Linked DNA regions of Homo sapiens. The protein of the gene in region 2 purifies or fractionates together with the protein of the main gene of each other region. This does not show direct contact. Each region holds a gene or a part of one and is shown on either strand. Other genes may lie near its edges.

Region 1 (5,176 bases), on a different chromosome or scaffold from region 2:
CTGCCATATGCGGCCTGAGTGAGCAGCTCTTTCCTGGGGCACAAAAGGCCCTCAGCCGTGGTCACTGCAGCATTCTGCAGTCAGCGACACGTCTGTCCCTCCACTACATTTCAGGTATACAGGGGGAGGCTGGCTAATTTCCCACCATCCTATCCTGAGGTCCTAGTATGCGGTAAGGGGGGCTCCATCAGTGTGAAGGGAGACAATTCAAAGTAGTGGAAATACGTCCAACCTTCCTTCTTAGCATTCCGTACTTAAAGTTTTTAAATGTCGGCCGGGTGCGGTGGCTCACGCCTGTGGTCCCAGCACTTTGGGAGGCTGAGGCGGGCGGATCGCGAGGTCAGGAGATCGAGACCATCCTGGCAAACACGATGAAGCCCCGTCTCTACTAAAAATACAACAACAACAACAAAAATTAGCCGGGCGTGGTGGCAGGCACCTGTAGTCCCAGCTACTGTGGAGGCTGAGGCAGGAAAATGGTGTGAACCTGGGAGGCGGAGCTTGCAGTAAGCCGAGATTGGGCCACTGCACTCCAGCCTGGGCGACAGAGCGAGACTCCATCTCAAAAAAAAAAAAAAAAAAAAAAAAAAAAGTTTTTAAATGTCTTAGAGTCTTGAAGAAGGAACAGAGGTTTTCTCTGGGCTGGGATGGTACAATGCTACCAGAAAAACCCCATCTTCACCCCGCCCTTCTGAGGTGGCTCATAGGCAAGGAGCCAGGATGTGTGACACTCTGTCTTGACCAACCAGAGATTCTTTCTCATCTCCTAACAGAAGTTATTTCAGAGATACACAACGAGCTGTATGTATTCTGGGAACAGGCTCTGCCATTTTCTTCCCTTAACGACAGGGTCCAAAATAAATCTCCAAGGCTCCTTTGGACTCTGAGCTATCATGTCTCTTGTGTGAATCCAAGTGATGAAATCTGCGTATTTCACTATAAAACTCAAGTTCTTAGAGATCAGAACATAATGTTTTTTGTTTTTTTTTTGAGATGGAGTCTTACTCTATAGCCCAGGCTGGAATGCAATGGCATGATCTCGGCTCACTGCAACCTCTGCCTCCTGGGTTTAAGCAATTCTTCTGCCCCAGCCTCCCGAGTACCTAAGATTACAGGCTCACACCAACACACCTGGCTAATTTTTCGGTAGAGACGGGGTTTCACCATGTTGGTCAGGCTGGTCTCGAACTCCTGACCTCAGGTGATTCGCCCACCTCGGCCTCCCAAAGTGCTGGGATTATAGGCATCAGCCACCACGCCCGGCCAAAACATAAGGTTTTTAAAAATTAAAGAAATGTGAAAACACCCCAAGACTCCTCAGCTTTCTCCAGAAACAGATGAACATACCCTCAACTGATCAAGCTTCTCTCGGATCTGAATGAACCCCAAGTGTAACTTGCCACCGAAGTGGTCTGCCAGGCGACGGTCATTGTCATGGAGACCAAGGTAGGCTGAACAGACCTCGCAGACACGCAGCTTTTGCTGCTGAAAACTGGATGCAGGCATGGAATTTCTGTATTCTTCCTGAAGAAGGAAAATGGAGAAATAAAAGTGAGGTATATAGAACTGCCACCACAAATTCAATCTCCAAAATGAAAATATTTGATAAGATGACAGAGGTGACTTTTAAACAAATATTAAAAAAACACAAACAAAACTTCAGATATTTATAACCAACTCAATTTTCACTGTTTATTTAAGAAACGCGGCCAGGCACGGTCCCAGCACTTTGTGAGGCCAGGTGGGCGGACCATGTGGTCAAGAGATCAAGACCAGGCCAGGCGCGGTGGCTCACGCCTGTAATCCCAGCACTTTGGGAGGCTGAGGCTGGCGGATCACCTGAGGTCCGGAGTTCAAGATCAGCCTGACCAACATGGAGAAACCCCATCTCTATTAAAAATACAAAAGTAGCCGGGTGTGGTGGCGCATGCCTGTAATCCCAGCTATTCTGGAGGCTGAGGCAGGAGAATGGCTTGAACTCGGGAGGCGGAGGTTGCTGTTGAGCTGAGATCGCACAGGCAACAAGAGCAAAACCCTGTCTCAAAAAAAAAAAAAAAAAAAAAAAGAGAGATCGAGACCATCCTGGCCAACTTTGTGAAACCCCGTCTCTACTAAAAATACAAAAATCAGCTGGGTGTGGTGGCACATGCCTGTAGTCCCAGCTACTCAGGAGGCTGAGGCAGGAGAATCACTTGAACCTGGGAAGCGGAGGTTGCAGTGAGCCAAAACCGTGCCACTGCATTCCAGCCTGGCAACAGAGCGAGACTCCATCTTAAAAAAAAAAGGTACTAACAGGCTGGGCTCAGTGGCTCACGCCTGTAATCCCAGCATTCCGAGGCCAAGGCAGACAGATCACTTGAGGCCAGGAGTTCAAGACGAGCCTGGCAACATAGCAAAACCCTGTCTCTACTAAAAATACAAAAATTGGCCGGGCGCGGTGGCTCACGCCTGTAATCCCAGCACTTTGGGAGGCTGAGGCAGGCGAATCATGGGGTCAGGAGATCACGACCATCCTGGCTAACACGGTGAAACCCCGTCTCTACTAAAAAAACAGAAAAAATTAGCTGGGCGTGGTGGCGGGCGCCTGTAGTCCCAGCTACTCAGGAGGCTGAGGCAGGAGAATGGCGTGAACCCGGCAGGCGGAGCTTGTAGTGAGCCAAGATCATGCCACTGGGCGAAAGAGCGAGACTCCGTCTCAAAAGAAAAAAAAAAAAAAAAAGCCAGATGGTGGCAGGCATCTGTAATTCCAGCTACTGGAGAGGCTGAGGCACAAATTGTTTAAGCCCAGGAGGTGGAGGTTGCAGTGAGCTGAGATCACACCACTGCATTCCAACCTGGAGGACAGAGGAAAACTCCAAAAAGGAAAAAAAAAAAATTGTATTCCAGGCCTGGTGTAGTGACTCACACCTATAATCTCAGCACTTTAGGAGAGTGAAGCAAGAAGATCACTTGGCCCCAGGAGATTGAGATCACCCTGAGCAACACAGCAAGACTCAGTCTCTAAAAATAAGAAAATAATTAGCCCGCTGTGGTGGCACGTGCCTATAGTCCCACCTACTCAAGAGACTGATTCGAGAGGACTGCTTGAGCCCAGGAGGTTGAAGGGGCAGTGACCTGTGACTGCGCCACTGTACTTCAGCCTGGGTGACCCTGGCTGACAGCAGGACCCTCTAATATTAAAAAAAATAGGCTGGGCACAGTGGCTAACACCTGCAATCCCAGCACTTTGGGAGGCCAAGGCAGGTGGATCACAAGGTCAGGAGTCCGAGAAGGTGAAACCCCGTCTCTATTAAAAATACAAAAAAATTAGCTGGGCACGGTGGCTGGCACCTGTAATCCCAGCTACTCGGGAGGCTGAGTCTGAGAATTACTTGAACCCGGGAGTCAGAGGATGCAGTGAGCCGAGATCGCACCACAGCAATCCAGCCTGGGCGACAGAGCGAGACTCTGTCTGAGAAAAAAAAAAAAAAAAAAGTAGACAAGGAACTAGCAAGAACTTGAATTTCCATTATAGTATGCTACATAACTAAAAAAAAAAAAAAAAAAAAAAAACTTAAGCAAAAACAATATTGTGGTACACAAATATTCATAACATTACTCTGTCCCCTTCTATAGTTTTGAAACCTTAAATGCCACCTTCTAACATCTTTCAAAATAAACTCTGATTATGTTGAGTAAAAAAAGTCAGTCCCAAAAGGTTACCTACTGTATGATTCCATTTACATAACTTTTTTTTTTTTTTTGAGACGGAGTCTCGCTCTGTCGCCCAGCCTGGAATGCAGTGGCACGATCTCAGCTCACTACAAGCTCTGCCTCCCGGGTCCACACCATTCACCTGCCTCAGCCTCCTGAGTAGCTGGGACTACAAGCGCACGCCGCCACGCCCGGCCAATTTTTTGTATTTTTAGTAGAGACGGAGTATCACCATGTTAGCCAGGATGGTCTCGATCTCCTGACCTCGTGATCCACCCGCCTCAGCCTCCCAAAGTGATGGGATTACAGGCGTGAGCCACCGCACCAGGCTTTTTTTTTTTTTTTTTTTTTTTTGAGAGAGAGTCTTGCTCTGTCACCCATATTGGAGTGCAATGGCACGATCTCTGTTCGCTGCAACCTCCGCCTTCTGGGTTCAAGCGATTCTCCTACTTCAGCCTCCCAAGTAGCTGGGATTACAGGTGCCCGCCACCACACCTGGCTAATTTTTATACTTTTAGTAGAAATGGGGTTTCACCAAGTTGGCCAGGCTGGTCTCGAACTCCTGACCTCAGGTGATGCACCTACCTTGGCCTCCCAAAGTGCTGGGATTACAGGCATGAGCAACCGTGCCCGGCCATATTTTTAATTTCTTTGTAAAGATGGGGTATCCCTATGTTGCCCAGGCTGGTCTCAAACTCCTGGACTCAAGCAATCCTCCTGCCTCGACCTTCCAAAGTGTTGAGATTACAGGCATGAGCCACCATACCCACCCTCCATAAGCTTTTACGCTGGGCAGAAGGCAGCAAAAGGGGAGTCAGCATATCACATGGCAAAAGAAGGAGTGAGACAGAGAGAAGGACCTAGGCTCCTTTAAACAATCAGCTCTGAGGTGAACTCACTATCCCAGGGAGGGCACCAAGCCATTGATGAGTGAACCACCCCCATGACCCAAACACCTCCCACTAGACCCCACCTCCAACATTGGAGGTCACATTTCAACATGAGATTTGGACGTGCCACACATCCAAACCGTATCAAGTGTTATTTTTTATCTTTTATACTGTATTTTTACTGTACCTTTTCTATGTTTACGTACACAAATATTTAGGGGCCCACTGTGTTGCAACTGCCTATAGTATTCAGCACAGTAACATGCTGTACAGGTGTGGAGCCTAGGAGCAATGGGCTCTACCATACAGCCCACATGGCTATACCACCCAGGTTTGTTAAGCACACTCTATAATGTTCTCACAATGATGAACCATGGAACGCACTTCTCAGAATATTTAATCCTTGTCATTAAGAAAGATATGACTGTACTAATATCAGAAATGAAAGACAGGACATCATTACGGATCCACCCACTTTAAAGGAATAATACAAACAACTCTTAAAAACAACAACTCCATGCCCACAAAAGCGATAAACTAGATGAAATGGACCGATCCCTTCAAAGACAGCCAGGAGCAGTGGCTCACGCCTG
Region 2 (4,729 bases):
GCCCTGGCTCCCTGCTGGGGAGTTCGGACCTCCCAAAGCCCCGGCCCAGCCCCAACCCCAGCCCCATGGCGTCAGCGTCTCTGGCTTTAATGGGGACCCTGCTCCAGCCGATGCTTTGAAAGCCACTCTCACCCACACCCGTGATGTCAATTACCGCGTACCCCTCAGAGGCCTCCCCACCAGCGCTGGCTGCACCTCCCCTCGGGGGCCTCCTGCATTCTCCAGCTCCATAGCTTTCCCTCCTGGTCAACCCCATCCTCCTGCTCCCCCAGCTCCGGGGACCTGTGGAGCCACCTTCCCCCATGGCCCCCACCAGCCCTGCAGTTCAGGCCCAGGAGGAGGCCCCGCAGCCCCGGACCGCACCGGCAGCAGTGCCAGAGTGGCTCTCCGAATGGCCACGGCGCCTTTCTTCCCATAAAGACCAAACTCCCCGCGTGATTCAAACTGTCCCACAGGCCTGGTCCCGCCCCTCTATCTCCTGGCCCCACCCGGGCCCCTCACTGCCCTTCCCTGTGCCAGGCCTCCTCCGGCCACCTGAATGCTCCCCCGACCCCGGCCCGTGGCCACAATGACACCCACTCACCCTTCAGACCCAGGCCCAAACACAGCGGCCTCCTCCACACCAGGTATCCTCAATTCCCGGTCTGTGCATCAGCCCCGAAGGCGGGGTGGGGTCCCAGGACAGCGCCTCAGACAGACGCTTCCATCCTCGGGGCCCCTGCGCTCCTGGCGGGCGTGTGCTGGGGGTGAGGCCGGTGCTGCAGGACGCGCAGCCAGACAGGCCGCCAGCCCGGCAGAGGCTGCCTCAGACCCATTCCCCTCCGCCAGGACAAAGGCCTGAGTTTCCCACGGAGACTTATCCATGCATCTGTCTCCTCACACCCCGCACCTGGCAGGGAACCACCGGACAGGCCGGTCACTGCTGCGTTCCCAGAACCTTCCAGACAGCACATCCGCCCCACACACGTGCAGCTCCCACTCCCCTCCCGGGGCTGCGCACACTGCCCCATCGCTGTGGCTCCTCCTGGGGCGGAGCCTGGAGAACAGGGAGGGTATGCGGCCCTTCCCAGGTCACACAGAAGGGCCCGACGGGCCGCTCCACCTCGTGCCATAGGCCAGGGTGGCCCAGTCTCCCACCCAAGCCAGGACCGGAGAAGCCACTATCCCTCAGCACACTCTAGCCTCAGCACTCGGCCGGGCCTCCAGGCAGGTTCCCACCTGGGAGAAGGGCTGGGGTTCTGGCCTTCATGCGGGGTTGGAAGAGGACTGAAAAGGCGAGTCCGAGGCTGGCCACATTCCCATCCAGTGTGGCTGGACCCCAGGGGTTCGGAGGCTCCGGGAAAGCCCACCAAGCCTCACGCGTTTCGCTGATAGATGCCCAGGAAGCGGCTGGCAGGGAAGAGGCGGTCCTGCAGCTCACAGAGCTCCCCTCCCACCCCCGGGGAGCCCCAGGCCGCGCTGCCCTCCACCTTCCCGCCCTCCCCGGCCTGCAACGCTCGTGGCGTTTTTCAACAGGTTCTAGAAACTCCCTCTCACTCTGCCCCTCAAGCCTGGCCACAGGGCGCCCCGAGCAGGGAGTGTGCGGGCTCCGGGTACACGCTGCGCCGCGGCTGCACCAGAGCGCCCACGACCCTGACCCCGACCCGAAGCGGCCCCTCAGCGGGACAGGGTGTTGGCGCTGGCGCTGCTGCTATTGCGGCGCGCCCCCCCGCTCTGGCCCCTGCGTGTCGCCAGGGACTCTTGCGCTAGGGTCAGACTCAAAGACGGACCGAGGCGGGTGCCCACCTGGGACGCGTGCGTTTGGTGGCGGAATCCCCGGGGCGGCCGGAGGCGGCGGCCGGGGAGTCGAGAAGCAAGTACTAGCGCTCCAGGACCGCGCGCGCCGCCCCGCGCCGCCCCGCGCCGCCCCTCGGTCCAGAGCCCCCACCCCCGGCCTGTGAGCCTGCGGCGCTGGTGGAGCCCGGCTCCAGGAAGAGGAGCTCACCCGGTCCCCCCTGATTGGACAGCAGCGAGGTCCCACCGGGCGCCTCCGCGGCTTAAAACCGAAGCGGGGGCGAGGGGGAGGTAGAGCCCGCCCCCTGCGCGTCGCGGCTGGGAGGGAGAGGAGGTGGGAGAGAAGGAAGAGGCGGAGGAGGCAGCGGGCGCCGAGGCTCTGGGACCCGCAGGCAAGCCAGACCGACGCGCAGAGCCGGGAGCCTCATCGCAGCGGCAGCGGCAGCGGCGGGCTCGGGCCGGCCTCGGGGGCTGCTCACCCACATGAGCATCCGCCCACCCGGCGAGCCCCCGAGCCCAGGCGGCGCGGCCATGGCCGAGCTCAAGTCGCTGTCGGGGGACGCGTACCTGGCACTAAGCCACGGCTACGCGGCGGCGGCTGCGGGTCTCGCCTACGGGGCGGCGCGAGAACCCGAAGCGGCCCGCGGCTACGGCACTCCGGGCCCGGGCGGCGACCTCCCCGCGGCGCCTGCACCTCGCGCCCCAGCTCAGGCGGCGGAGAGCAGCGGCGAACAGAGCGGGGACGAGGACGACGCCTTCGAGCAGCGGCGGCGGCGGCGCGGGCCAGGGAGCGCGGCGGACGGGCGGCGGCGGCCGCGAGAGCAGCGGTCTCTGCGGCTCAGCATCAACGCGCGCGAGCGGCGGCGCATGCACGACCTAAACGACGCGCTGGACGGGCTGCGAGCCGTCATCCCCTACGCGCACAGCCCGTCGGTGCGCAAGCTCTCCAAGATCGCCACGCTGCTGCTCGCCAAGAACTATATCCTCATGCAGGCGCAGGCCCTGGACGAGATGCGGCGCCTGGTGGCCTTCCTCAACCAGGGCCAGGGCCTGGCCGCGCCCGTAAACGCCGCGCCCTTGACGCCCTTCGGCCAGGCCACTGTGTGCCCCTTCTCCGCAGGCGCCGCCCTGGGGCCCTGCCCTGACAAGTGCGCCGCCTTCTCCGGGACGCCCTCCGCGCTTTGCAAACACTGTCACGAGAAGCCGTGACCGCGCGGGCCCCCGGCCCTCCCGCACGCGTCCTCCGATCGCCCCTGTGACTGTCTCTCTGCCCGGACAGGAAAGGCCTGGAGGGACCCTGCAGACCAGGAGGAGGGGGCCCGACTTCGCTTCCAGCCTGTGCGCGGTGGACAGTTTAGCGCAGCGGGAAGCGCCAAGGCCGTCGGGGCGCGGGATTGAGCTCGAGAGCCGGACGCTGGACTCTGCGCCCGGGAACTCGCGGCACCCACTGGGTATTGTCGGGACCCAGCAAGTCTAGGAACGGGGGTGGGTAGAGCATCCTTCGGGCACTGCCGTTCGTCCCCAAAAGAAGACCACCGCGGGGTCCCAGGGCCACGGCGAGGACGGGCACTGGTCAGATTCCGGACAGGCGGTCCTGGCCCCGGGCGCACGAAAGGTGGAGACGAAGAAAAGCCGGACTTACTGGCTCCTGATCCTCTTGCAGTGGGCCTCGCGCTCCCGCTCCAGCCGGCCCTTCGTGCTAAACTGCAGGGCAGTGCTCTGTTCCTGAGGACGCGCGTGGCCGGCACCTCCCACCTCGGTGACTCCGAGACTCCGCAGCCCTGCGGAGAGCCCACGATGGCCGTCTGCAGAGGAGCTGGACCGCGGGCGCAGGAAGACCCCGGGGAAGGCCTTTTCCAAGTAGGAGTTTGTTCTATTTATTTGGGAATTGGACGCCGTCGCCGGCTGCCTCGAAGTCTGAGGAATTTGTCCCCTAAATGTCCCCTGGCCTCCCCCCCCCGCCGCCATCCGCTGCCTGGGACGTCCGCGGGGTGGAGTTGGATGGAGACCGCTTTGCGGGCCCTCTGCCTCGGGGGGCTGCGTGGAGGAGGGTCCTCACAGCCCGCGCCCTACTTAACCCTGACGGTCAGGGGAGGGCCCCGTCTAGCCCTGGTGTCCAGCAAACCCCCTCCCCACCGATCCCCTCTCCCTTCCGAGGGAGGAGGCCGGGCTACGGGTGAGTAAGCTGCTGCGGGCCCCGTGCCCCGCCGGGTGTGAACGGAGATGCGCTGCGCAGTGCCCGTCCTGCGCAGCTCCCAGCTCTGCCACCATCCGGGATCCAGGGAGCCGGGCAGGGTGCCCCCGGGGACCCATCTGTCCGCGCCGGTTTGCGCCCCGCGGCCCCGCCGCAGTATCCGGCTTTATTAACCCAATTTCCTCGGCTGTCGGTAATGCCAAGGGGAGAGGGCCGCCGCCCTGCAACGCGCCTGTCTACAGCGTTTAACTCTGATTAATACATTCCACAGGGCCTTCTGTACTTGCAAAATCAAGTGTATGGTTAAGTCTTATTCATAAAGACATATGCCTAATACTGGTTTCTGCTAATTTCCACTTTTATTTCTTCATTGTCTTTTTTTTTTCCCCTAACAGACTAGTTTATCAGTTTTGCACATTCGAAAAGCTGAGTGCCAGACACCGTTTTTCCCCTTTTAGATAAAGTGGGAAAGCTGGAAACTCAAATGCCCTTCACTTCTAGGGTCATTTCAACGTGATCTTAAATAAATTACCTGCTTATCAGAATTTGAAACAGGGGTGTTTATTCTGGTTAAAATCAGAGACATTGGTACATCATTTATATTCAGAATAAAGCATTTTATTGCCATTTATTTTATAAAAATAATATGGTTAAATTTTAATATCAAGTGAAATAGTGTTCATTTGTAGCTGAATTCACAATAATTTCAATTTTCAGATACTTGTGTCCACTCGAAACCAGAGTCTGAAGAGTCTCTGAGAT
Region 3 (5,176 bases), on a different chromosome or scaffold from region 2:
CTGTAAATAAAGTTTTACTGGAACAGAGCTACACTCGCCCTTTTGCGTATTGCCCGTGGCTGCTTTCAGGCTACAGCAGCAGGGCTGAATAGTTGCCGCAGCAGCTGCATGGCTCACGAAGCCTATAATATTTACCATCAAGCCCTTCACAGAAAACATTTGCAGACCCTGCCCTATTAGAACATCAAATGTCGGCCAGGCGAGGTGGCTCACGCCTGTAATCCCAGCACTTTGGGAGGCCAAGGCGGGTGGAGCATGAGGTCAGGAGTTCAAGACCAGCCTGGCCAAGATAGTGAAACACCCGTCTCCACCAAAAATACAAAAATTAGCTAGGCTTGGTGGCGGGCACCTGTAATCCCAGCTATTCGGGAAGCGGAGGCAGAAAATTGCTTGAACCCGGGAGGCGGAGGTTGCAGTGAGTCGAGATTGCACCACTACACTCCAGCCTGGGTGACAGAGCGAGACTCCATCTCAAAAACAAAACATAAAATGTCCCTGGAAGAAGTTATCCTTCACATTTTCATCACTCAGACAAATATTTTTGGTTATTACTTCATTTTCTAACACATATTAGTGGGATGAGACCCAGATAGGCAGCTAAGGGGGAAGTCCCAGGAGGCTGAGCAGCTCTGATAAAGGGTTGGCCCCATGCCAGGGTCTAGTTTGACTTGTGTGTCTGTTCCTGACCTTTACCTTTCACCATCTTTTGAGCATTTCTAGCGATGACAGTTATTCTGCTTGTTTTGGGGGAGTTGTGGGTTCCTTCCTTGATGCACAGATACTATGAACCTCATAGGCTGAGAGGCAGAGAGACTCCTGCAGATAAGCCTCCTGGTGAAGGAGACACCCTCCTGGGTGTTTAAGAGAGGTGGACTTAGGTGGACTGGGCACATCGCTGCCTCCCACAATTCACGCCTGGCTCTTCCACCCTCTCAGGTTCGAGACCCTGGAGCCTGAAATGAACACCCTTGCAGCACAAATCACCGCGGTGAATGACATTGCCGAGCAGTTACTGAAGGCCAACCCCCCAGGCAAAGACCGCATTGTCAACACCCAGGAGCAGCTCAACCACAGGTGGGTTTGGGAGGGCAGGACCAGGAAACTGACAGAAAAATGAAGCAATGGGGATGGCAGTGAGAGGCAGGTTTTGTAGGGCCTGGAAGGGTGGCTACAAAGGAGGAAGCAAACCAGTCTGGAATATGTTGGGGAAGGAAAAAGGATGAAAGAGATGAGAGAGGGGGTCAAGGTGGTCTGAAGCGGCTGCTGGCCAGAAAGGGAGGAGTGAAGGGGAGCTACCAAGAGAGAGAGAAGCAGGGAAGAAGCTTCCAAACAGGCCTGGCCAGGGCAGGAAGCTGAACCTTCCCCCTGCTCTCAGGTGGCAGCAGTTTCGGCGTCTGGCAGACGGCAAGAAGGCAGCTCTCACCTCAGCCCTGAGCATCCAGAACTACCACTTAGAGTGCACGGAGACCCAGGCCTGGATGAGAGAGAAGACCAAAGTCATCGAGTCCACCCAGGGCCTAGGCAACGATCTGGCTGGGGTGCTGGCCCTGCAGCGCAAGCTGGCCGGCACGGAGCGGGACCTGGAGGCCATCGCCGCCCGGGTGGGCGAACTGACTCGAGAGGCAAATGCCCTGGCTGCCGGCCATCCCGCTCAGGCAGTGGCCATCAACGCCCGGCTGAGAGAGGTGCAGACCGGCTGGGAGGACCTCAGGGCCACCATGCGGCGTCGAGAAGAGTCGCTGGGGGAGGCGCGGCGGCTGCAGGACTTCTTGCGCAGCTTGGATGACTTCCAGGCCTGGCTAGGCCGCACTCAGACTGCTGTGGCCTCTGAAGAAGGGCCGGCCACCCTGCCTGAGGCAGAGGCCCTCCTGGCCCAACATGCAGCCCTGCGGGGAGAGGTGGAGCGGGCCCAGAGCGAGTATAGCCGGCTGCGAGCCCTGGGCGAGGAGGTGACCCGGGACCAGGCTGACCCCCAGTGCCTCTTCCTACGACAGCGACTGGAGGCCCTGGGAACTGGCTGGGAGGAGCTGGGCCGAATGTGGGAGAGCCGGCAAGGTCGCCTGGCCCAGGCCCACGGCTTCCAGGGATTCCTGCGGGATGCTCGTCAGGCTGAGGGCGTGCTCAGCAGCCAGGTGAAAGTCCAGGGCAAAGTCCCAAGCAGGAGGAAGAGCAAAGTAGGGACCCGGGGAAATGTGAAGGAGCAGGATGGGCAGGAAGGACATGCTAGCAAAATGGGGCAGCGCAGTGGTTCACACCTGAAATTCCAGCACTTTGGGAGGCCAAAGTAGGAGGATCACTTGAGGCTGAGAATATCCAGACCAACCTGGGCAACATGGCAAGACCTTGTCTCTACAAAAAAATTTTTTTAAGAAAATAGAAGAATTTTTTAAAAAGAAAAATGGGAGCCAGACAGGATGGCTCACACTTGTACTCCCAGTATTTTGGGAGGCCGAGGCAGGAGAATAACTTGAGCTCAGGAGTTTGAGACCAGCCTGGGCAACATAGTGAGACCCCCATCTCTATGAAAAAAAAAAATTAACTGGACATGGTGGTGCATGCCTGTAGCTCCAGCTACTGGGGAGGCTGAGGCTGGTGGATCACTGGAGCCAGGAGTTTGAGGCTGCAGTGAGCTATGATATGCCACTGCACTCCAACCTGGGCCACAGAATGAAACCCTCTCTCAAAAAAAAGAAAAAGAAAAAAGAAGGAAAAATGAGAATGAAAAAGACGTGAATATAATTTACTAAAACTGACTTTAGAAGAAATAGAAAGCCCAGTTTGTCATGTAACTGTTAAATGGAATCAGGAGCTAGAAGTGAGATAGAACAGGATTTGGGCTGGGGAATGGAAGGTCCTTCCCACCCAGCTTCCCTGTGACTTTCTGAGGCTCCCATGCTGGCTGGCAGCCTCCCTGTCTTCAGAGCTCTCTGGGCTACCCTCCCTGTCTGCTTGTTGGTCCCTACCTCTCAGATTTGCCCCTGGGTGGGTCCCTCCTAGGGGGGTGAATTGTGCTGGGGAAAATGAGCTGAATGTCATCCCTCCCACACAGGAATATGTTCTGTCTCACACGGAGATGCCAGGGACACTCCAGGCTGCTGATGCTGCCATTAAAAAACTGGAGGACTTCATGAGCACCATGGACGCCAATGGGGAACGGATCCACGGGCTCCTGGAGGCTGGCCGCCAGCTGGTATCTGAAGGCAACATCCACGCCGACAAGATTCGGGAAAAGGCAGACTCCATTGAGAGGAGGTCTGATGAGGACAGTCCATGAATTAGGGTTCCCAGGGGGGAATCGGAGAAACAGGGTGACCTCAAAGATAAACGTGGCACAGGAAACCCACAGATGGGGCAGGAGCTGACAGAGAAGTAGAGGGGAAGAACTAAGTGGTTGGAGAGGGCTGGGAGATTCCACCCCCAACCAGGGCTAAAAGGAAGTCAGGATTCCTGGGTAGCCTCATTGTGCTCCCGGAAGGCGTTATTCCCCTAGAAGAAATGGAGGCCCCTAGGTTAGCCAAAGGGTCACAATCCTTTCACAGCAAATTCCAGAGTTTCACAAGAGGGTGTCGTTCCAGGCACAAGAAGAATCAAGACGCAGCGCAGCAATTTCTGGGCCGTCTTCGGGACAACCGGGAGCAGCAGCATTTCCTGCAAGATTGTCACGAGGTGAGGCTCCCTGGGGCCCCGGGATATTCCCTAGCCATCCCTTTCTCACCTTGAGCCTAGAATAAGTCCAGCACAAGGTACCGGAGACTGTGAGCCCCTTCATGGCTTCTTCCCAAGGCGCCCACTTCTCCTGGCTCACTGTGGCCCTGCTTTTATGCCCCCCTCTCCCCTCCCTTGGAAATGTCCCTGTTTTATGTTTGGTCCAGCTGAAGCTCTGGATCGACGAGAAGATGCTGACAGCCCAGGACGTGTCCTATGACGAGGCCCGCAACCTGCATACTAAGTGGCAGAAGCACCAGGCATTCATGGCCGAGCTGGCTGCCAACAAAGACTGGCTGGACAAGGTGGACAAGGTGAGCAGTGCTGTGGGGGCTGCCTCTGGGCAGAGTCCCCCATGGTACGGGGGAGGGCCTGGCTCCAGGACGTGGTTTTTGTCATGGTTAGAGATTGTGGGGTTCTGGTGCCACAGCTCCATGGTGGAAAGTTATGGCCTCTGGGAAACAAACGTCTTTGTTGGAGACAAAGAGTGGGACAGTGAGTCCAGAACCTTGATAAAGTACAAATTAGCAGGTAGCGAAACTGCAGCCTGGATTTAACGCCATAACTGTTCCTGAGTTCAAAGCAGGATGGTGCTCTTCAGCAGGCTCTGCAAACCTTGTCTGGAAAGGGCTTGGGCTGGATGGTCAATATCTGAGGCTTTGCAGTCCAAACAGTTTCTACTACAACTACTCATCTCTGTCGTTGTAGTGCAAAAGCAGCCTCAGAGAATAAGTGAATGAATGAACATGGCTGTTTCCCAATAAAACTTTATTTGTAAAAACAGGCAGTGGGCCAGATTACCCCGTGGGCTGTATGTAGTCTGCCAATCCTTATTTTCGAGTCTTGCCGTCCCTGGTTCTTGGTCTCCCACCCAGCTGTTCCTCAAGAGTCAAGGACAGATAAAGCTTTATATCTGCTCAGCAAGTATCCCTACAGAACATGGTACGTGCTCAACAGTCTGCGAGGCACTGCAGGGTCTACGAAAAGACACTTTCCTTTTCTCAAGGGCATGATGGTTGGGACAAAAGGAGACCAGTGTGCTTTCAAGTGTTTCCATTCGTTCAGCAAATATTTACTTGGTGCTACTATATCCAAAGCATTGTATTAGGCCCTGCGTGGGGTCCGAAAGGGATCCCATGGTAGGCTCCACCCTGAAGGAACAACACTGTAGCCAGGATATGAGGCATATATGCAGGTAGCTAAATCGAATCCAGAGCAGAATCTGATGAGTGCTGTGAGAGTGGCCCCGTTGAAGCCTGGGGAATAAGGAGAGAGGAGATATGGAAATTCTAGAAGCAGCAACATCCAGGGCAGTCCATGGAGGATGAGTAGAATTTGGACAAGTGGAGATATGGAGGAAAAGATGTTTCCAGGTAGAGAAAACCAAACAGAAAACCAGTGGTAGGCAGTGCCTGTTTGGGAGCAAGGGGGTGAGTGAGTCCAGCAGCAGCACAGAATGTGTGCAGGGCCC
Region 4 (5,176 bases), on a different chromosome or scaffold from region 2:
AAATCAGCTGGGCGTGGTGGTGCACACCTATAATCCCATCTACTCGGGAGGCTGAGGCAAGAGAATCGCTTGAGCGTGGGAGGCGGAGGTTGCAGTGAGCCGAGACTGTGCCACTGCACTGTAGCCTGGGCCACAGAGCGAGGCTCCATCTCAAAACAAAACAAACAAAAAACAAGAGAAACGAGAGGTTACAAATTGGTTGATGCTGACCTGAAGTATTTCAATATAAAAAAATGTCGCCTATCTAAAAAAAATGGAGTGTAAAGTCCTTTGGGGGGGCCCCCATGATTTTGGTTAACTTTTTTAAGAAACCTGGGCCCCCGGCTCCCCCAAAGGCTGGAGCAACTGCCTTTTCAGTCGGGCAGGCATCTCCTGGTTCCGCTCGTCTGTGCCGTCCTGTCTGCCTCTCACCACCAGAGCCCTGCTCAGGGTCTTGCAGGCAGTGGAATTGTGAGCCTGGATAGTGGGCGGCAGTGCCGTTGTAAAGCCTCCTGACTGGGTTTGGAATGCTGTTTGGGTAAACACTTTTCCTTTCTCAGGAAATGCTGTCTATGATTTCTTCATTGGCCGTGAATTAAACCCTCGAATTGGTACTTTTGATCTCAAATACTTTTGTGAATTGCGCCCCGGATTGATTGGATGGGTATGTCTGGTTTTTTTTCTTCTAAATTTCAATTCAATAGGTCTAATTAACTGCTAGAAAGAAATGTAGACCATTCAAAAATAAGCAGTGGGTGGTATATTTTTAGGGATAATTATGGCTTTCCATAAATCTATCAAAATACTTTCTTGTAAGTATTTTCCAGAGGTTTAAGATGCCCTGTTACAGGTTATGACAAATTAAATAACTTTTCTTTGCTTTATTTTTATTATATCAGTTTATATTTATGTAGGAAAGTGATAGTGTGGATGAATTAATGTAAGAAAAAATGCATTTTCCTCCTTTTTAAATTTTACCTAGTTTTAGGCTTGGAGTTGCAGATAGAGAGCAAAGAGTTCCCTTCCACCCTTCATTCTGTTTCTCACAACATTAACCTTGGAGGAAACCGTAGTGTAGTGATGAAGAACAGCAGATTAACATAGTGACAGCATTGGTTACCAAGTCCACAGGCCTCAGTCGAGTTCACCAGTTTTTCCGCTGTTGTCCTTTTTCTGTTCCAGGAACCTCGACAGGACTCCACAATACATTTAGTTGTTATTCCTTCTTAGTCTTCTCTAGTCTAATAGTTGTTTAGGCTTTCCTTGTCTCTCATGACCTTGATACTTTTTGGAAGGTACTGGTTGGTTATTTTGTAAGTGTCCCTCAGTTTGGGTCATTCCAGTGTTCTCTTTGATTGCGGTAAAGTTACCCACTGTGACAGGAACACAGAAATGATAGCTGTGTCCTTCTCAGTGCATTGGGTCCAGGGGCCCATGGTGCTGAGATGTCTTATTCCTGGTGGCGGGTAGGAGTTACGGTGGCGTCTGCCAGGTGTCTCAGCTGTGAAGCTCACTCATGCCTTTGTAGTGCTAAGGTCTCTGGGGAGGTGCTTTGAGGCTATATACTTTCCCCTTTTGTTTCAGGTGGTTATTAACTTGGTGATGCTTTTGGCTGAAATGAAAATACAGGACCGCGCTGTTCCATCCTTGGCCATGATTTTAGTTAATAGTTTCCAGCTTCTCTATGTGGTGGATGCTCTCTGGAATGAGGTAATTAATTTTAAGAGCCGAGGCCTTGGAGTCAGATGGCTTTGAGTGGGTGAGTGACCTGTCAGAGCCTCGGCTTCTTGCACACAAAGTGAGGGGAGCATGGCCTGCCTCCAAGGCTGCTTGAGAGGAGGACGAGGCCATCCATGTGAAGCTGACGAGGGAGCACTGACAGGTGGGAAGTTTCTAGGCATTTGGGAGTGCTTCAGTGTTTATCAGCTGTTCTTGTGTTTAAAAGTAATATTCTAAATATTTAAGATTGGTGGATCTTGGTTTTGTTTTTGTGGGTGGTGGTAATTATGGTATCACATGAAAATGGATGGATTATTACTAAATTAGAATGGTGTTTCTTGGACTGTCAAGAGTCACCTAGTTTTTAAATAATGGGGGAGATGTTTTATTGTTAATGTTTTAAAATACAAAGACTAGCTCTAATTAGATGAATGTAAAATCAGAAATCAAGATGCATTGAGGAAACCAGTTGAAATAAGGCTAAGTTTCCATCTTGTGTCTTTTTTCATACATTGATTAGTCTTTCTACTAGTTGAAGACTGGTAAATGTTTTGTTTGTTTTCTCTGTCTCAGCCAGCATATTCCTTTTAAAAATTTTGTCTTCCTCAGGCTTATTTTACAAGTATTTTATCGTATTTACTGTTATCTTTGTAATTATCTCCAAATTCCAACTCTAGTTTTCTTTCCATATTAAAAACAAATCTGGCAGCTGTACATCATAATGTTCCAAAACAAGTTTTAGTGACAGTCTGTTGAGACAATCTGCTGACATTTTGAGAGAAGACCTTTTCTCTTTGAGCCTGGAACATTAAAAAAAATTATATTATTTGGTCATCAATACTATGTATCTCCCCCACCCCTGCTGGCTGGTCTTTAATTTTGGCCTTCTATGCAAAATTGCAGAGAACATTTAGTCAGAACAACTTCGCAAGTTTGATATTGGTGTTTCGATGATCTCCTTGTTATTTAGGAAGATTAGGGCCACTTTGAGGTAAACCTCAATTACAAGCGGTGGGATTAGTGCTATCCGCTAATTACGGGTTCCTGTTGCGCTCCTACCACTTCACAGACCCTGGCTCAGAGCTTGGGAAGCTGTGAAGGTGGTGATAACACTTCAAATTGACTTTAAAAATTCCACGTCGACCCAAAATTAAACATGTTTTTGAAATTAAAAAACAACTGTTTTGTAAATGCACTTACTGTTACCAGTGTAGCTTTGTTTGCTGTTATAGAATGAATCGCCAAAAGAGCATATAGGTTACAGTTTGCAAATCAAATGATATTTCACAGTTGTGCTCACCTCAGAGGCTTCTTTAAACCTTCCTTTCTAGTAGCTTTCCACTGATCAGTGATTATTTCTTCTGGTTTCTTCTATTACTAGCTTTCTGCCATGTTGTGGTTGTCACTTTTTAATTGGCTTAGAAGTTGATATTTTCTATAGATTTAGCCAAACATTGACTTGTGTTAAAAGAAAATTTTTTGCATCTTAAGGCAAAACGCTTAATGCAATATTAACATAGCCCCAGGGGTAGAGAACTAGAGTTAGGAAATTGTTTTCTGTCTGTTCTCAGTATCTCAGCCAGATGATAATAAGCTTCTTGAGGAAAGATTGTATTTTATGATTTCTTCAGCATTCTGGCATGCCACTGGGCAATTAGCAGATGCTTAATAACTTCTGTCAGGTCACTTGATAGAAATCCCTCTGTATTCAAGAATGTGCTATACCTTAAGAAAACTGAGACTACCTGTTTAAATATGCATGACCCTTCCTCTGAGCCGTCCTGTGAAAGCCTTGGGGCTCAGGAGCTGGTGGGGCTAAGGTCCTCCCCCTACCCGGCATTGGGTGCTTACCCTTTGCCCTCTCACTGCCACTCACCACACCTGCTTTTATCTGCTCCCACCAATTTGTCACCTTTATCCTCTTTTGGACCAGGAATCAGATCACAGGCCTTGAGAGAGAAGAATAAGACACTCTTGGGGACAGAAAGTTAAAACACCGTGTGTCCTCACTTATATGTGGGCGCTAAAAAAGTTGATGTCATAGAAGTATAAAGTAGAACAGAGGATATGGGAAGGTGGGAAGGGTAGGGGGAAGGGAAGGATAGGGAGAGGTTTGTTAAAGGATACAAAATTACCACTCGATAGGAGGAGTAAGTTCTAAGTTCTAGTATTCTATACCACTGTAGGATGACTATAGTTAACAGTGATACATAGTTTCAAATAGCTAGAAGGATATTGAATATTCCTAACACAAAGAAAGAATGTGTTTGAGATGATGGATATGCTAATTACCTTGATTGGATTACTATATATTACATGTATTGCAACATCACTGTGTACCCCATAAATATGTACGATTATTACATGTCAATTTTTTTTTTTAAAGAGAATAAAGTACTCTGGTTAACTAAAGAGTATAAGCCTAAGGAGCTAGATTTTGTGAGATTGGTTTTTCTGTTTCATGTGACATCTGTTTTTCTGTTCCATGGCCTATTTGCTTTCTTTTCTGGAAAAAAATGCTATTTAGAGGTACCACTCTTTTTCTTTAACCTAGAACTTTGATTCTCCAACAGAGCTTATACTGGCTAATATTTCTACATCAGTGGTCTGTACTGAGGTTCTGGGTAGTTTAGAGATTCCCTTAGGCCAGACCTTCAGAGTGTTGACCTTGGTGGTGGTTCCGTATTCTAGAGTCTGGCCTGCCCGTATCCTGGGCCAGAGGCGATCTGGCTCATGCTAACCAAATCACCAGGGAGTAATGCACTTTTATTAATTTACATGAGAAGCGAAGCTGTCAGTTCACCATGTTGCCAGGCAGCTTAATTTCTTCTGTGGAAAATGCACATGAAATGCCAGATTATGAACAGAAATTAGATTGGTCCATGTGGAATTGAAACAAAAAGAGTTGGTGATCTTATTCCTTCAGCAAGCATATTTTGAACACTTCTCTCCATGGCGGGCACTGTGCTAGGTACTGGGGTGGCAAAGGTGAAAACACACAGCCTCTGTCTTTTAGAGGCTTTTAGTGTAGTGAAGAGTGACTAGACAAGTACAGTAACCCAATTACTGCAGCCTACTGGTGGGTGGTGATATCTGAGAAGTGCCCAGGTCTGAGCAGCAGGTCAGGAGGGCAGCAGAGGGTGTAGGGCCTATGTGGAGGTTGGAGGAGGGGTTGTCAGCAGAGGGGAGGGCCTGGGCATGGGGGCATGGGAGATGCTTTAGAGATCTGTTATCTCCAGAGCATGAGCGAGAGGCTGGCGTGACGGGAGAATGTGACAGCAGAAAGACCTAGCAGGCCAGGGGAACCAGATCTCTCTCCCCTTTAACAAAAAAATGTTGATTGTGGACCCGCCCATAGCACTTTTTACATTTGCCTGTAAACTAGTACTTTATTTGAATACTTTAAACACAGAAGCTCCTTCTCCCTTTCCCCGTCTGTATCCTTATAGGAAGCGTTGTTGACGACCATGGACATCAT

Evidence for each region. The genes of interacting proteins can lie anywhere in the genome.
Region 1: the proteins of BHLHE23 (region 2) and LUC7L purify together in Homo sapiens (affinity purification with mass spectrometry; one large-scale study listed by BioGRID and IntAct). This does not show direct contact.
Region 3: the proteins of BHLHE23 (region 2) and SPTBN2 purify together in Homo sapiens (affinity purification with mass spectrometry; one large-scale study listed by BioGRID and IntAct). This does not show direct contact.
Region 4: the proteins of BHLHE23 (region 2) and LBR purify together in Homo sapiens (affinity purification with mass spectrometry; one large-scale study listed by BioGRID and IntAct). This does not show direct contact.

What each region holds. Positions count from the first base shown.
Region 1 is NC_000016.10:197,715-202,890, forward strand, and holds part of LUC7L (putative RNA-binding protein Luc7-like 1), read right to left. Parts: intron 1,525-5,176; coding exon 1,348-1,524; intron 1-1,347. UniProt on the Homo sapiens protein: May bind to RNA via its Arg/Ser-rich domain.
Region 2 is NC_000020.11:63,004,302-63,009,030, reverse strand, and holds BHLHE23 (class E basic helix-loop-helix protein 23), read left to right. Parts: upstream 1-2,066; 5' UTR 2,067-2,256; coding exon 2,257-2,982; 3' UTR 2,983-3,104; downstream 3,105-4,729. UniProt on the Homo sapiens protein: May function as transcriptional repressor. May modulate the expression of genes required for the differentiation and/or maintenance of pancreatic and neuronal cell types. May be important for rod bipolar cell maturation.
Region 3 is NC_000011.10:66,697,482-66,702,657, reverse strand, and holds part of SPTBN2 (spectrin beta chain, non-erythrocytic 2), read left to right. Parts: intron 1-936; coding exon 937-1,074; intron 1,075-1,375; coding exon 1,376-2,132; intron 2,133-3,049; coding exon 3,050-3,252; intron 3,253-3,575; coding exon 3,576-3,666; intron 3,667-3,872; coding exon 3,873-4,019; intron 4,020-4,489; coding exon of another isoform or gene 4,490-4,813; exon of another isoform or gene 4,814-5,176. UniProt on the Homo sapiens protein: Probably plays an important role in neuronal membrane skeleton.
Region 4 is NC_000001.11:225,406,804-225,411,979, reverse strand, and holds part of LBR (delta(14)-sterol reductase LBR), read left to right. Parts: intron 1-539; coding exon 540-643; intron 644-1,563; coding exon 1,564-1,689; intron 1,690-5,147; coding exon 5,148-5,176. UniProt on the Homo sapiens protein: Catalyzes the reduction of the C14-unsaturated bond of lanosterol, as part of the metabolic pathway leading to cholesterol biosynthesis.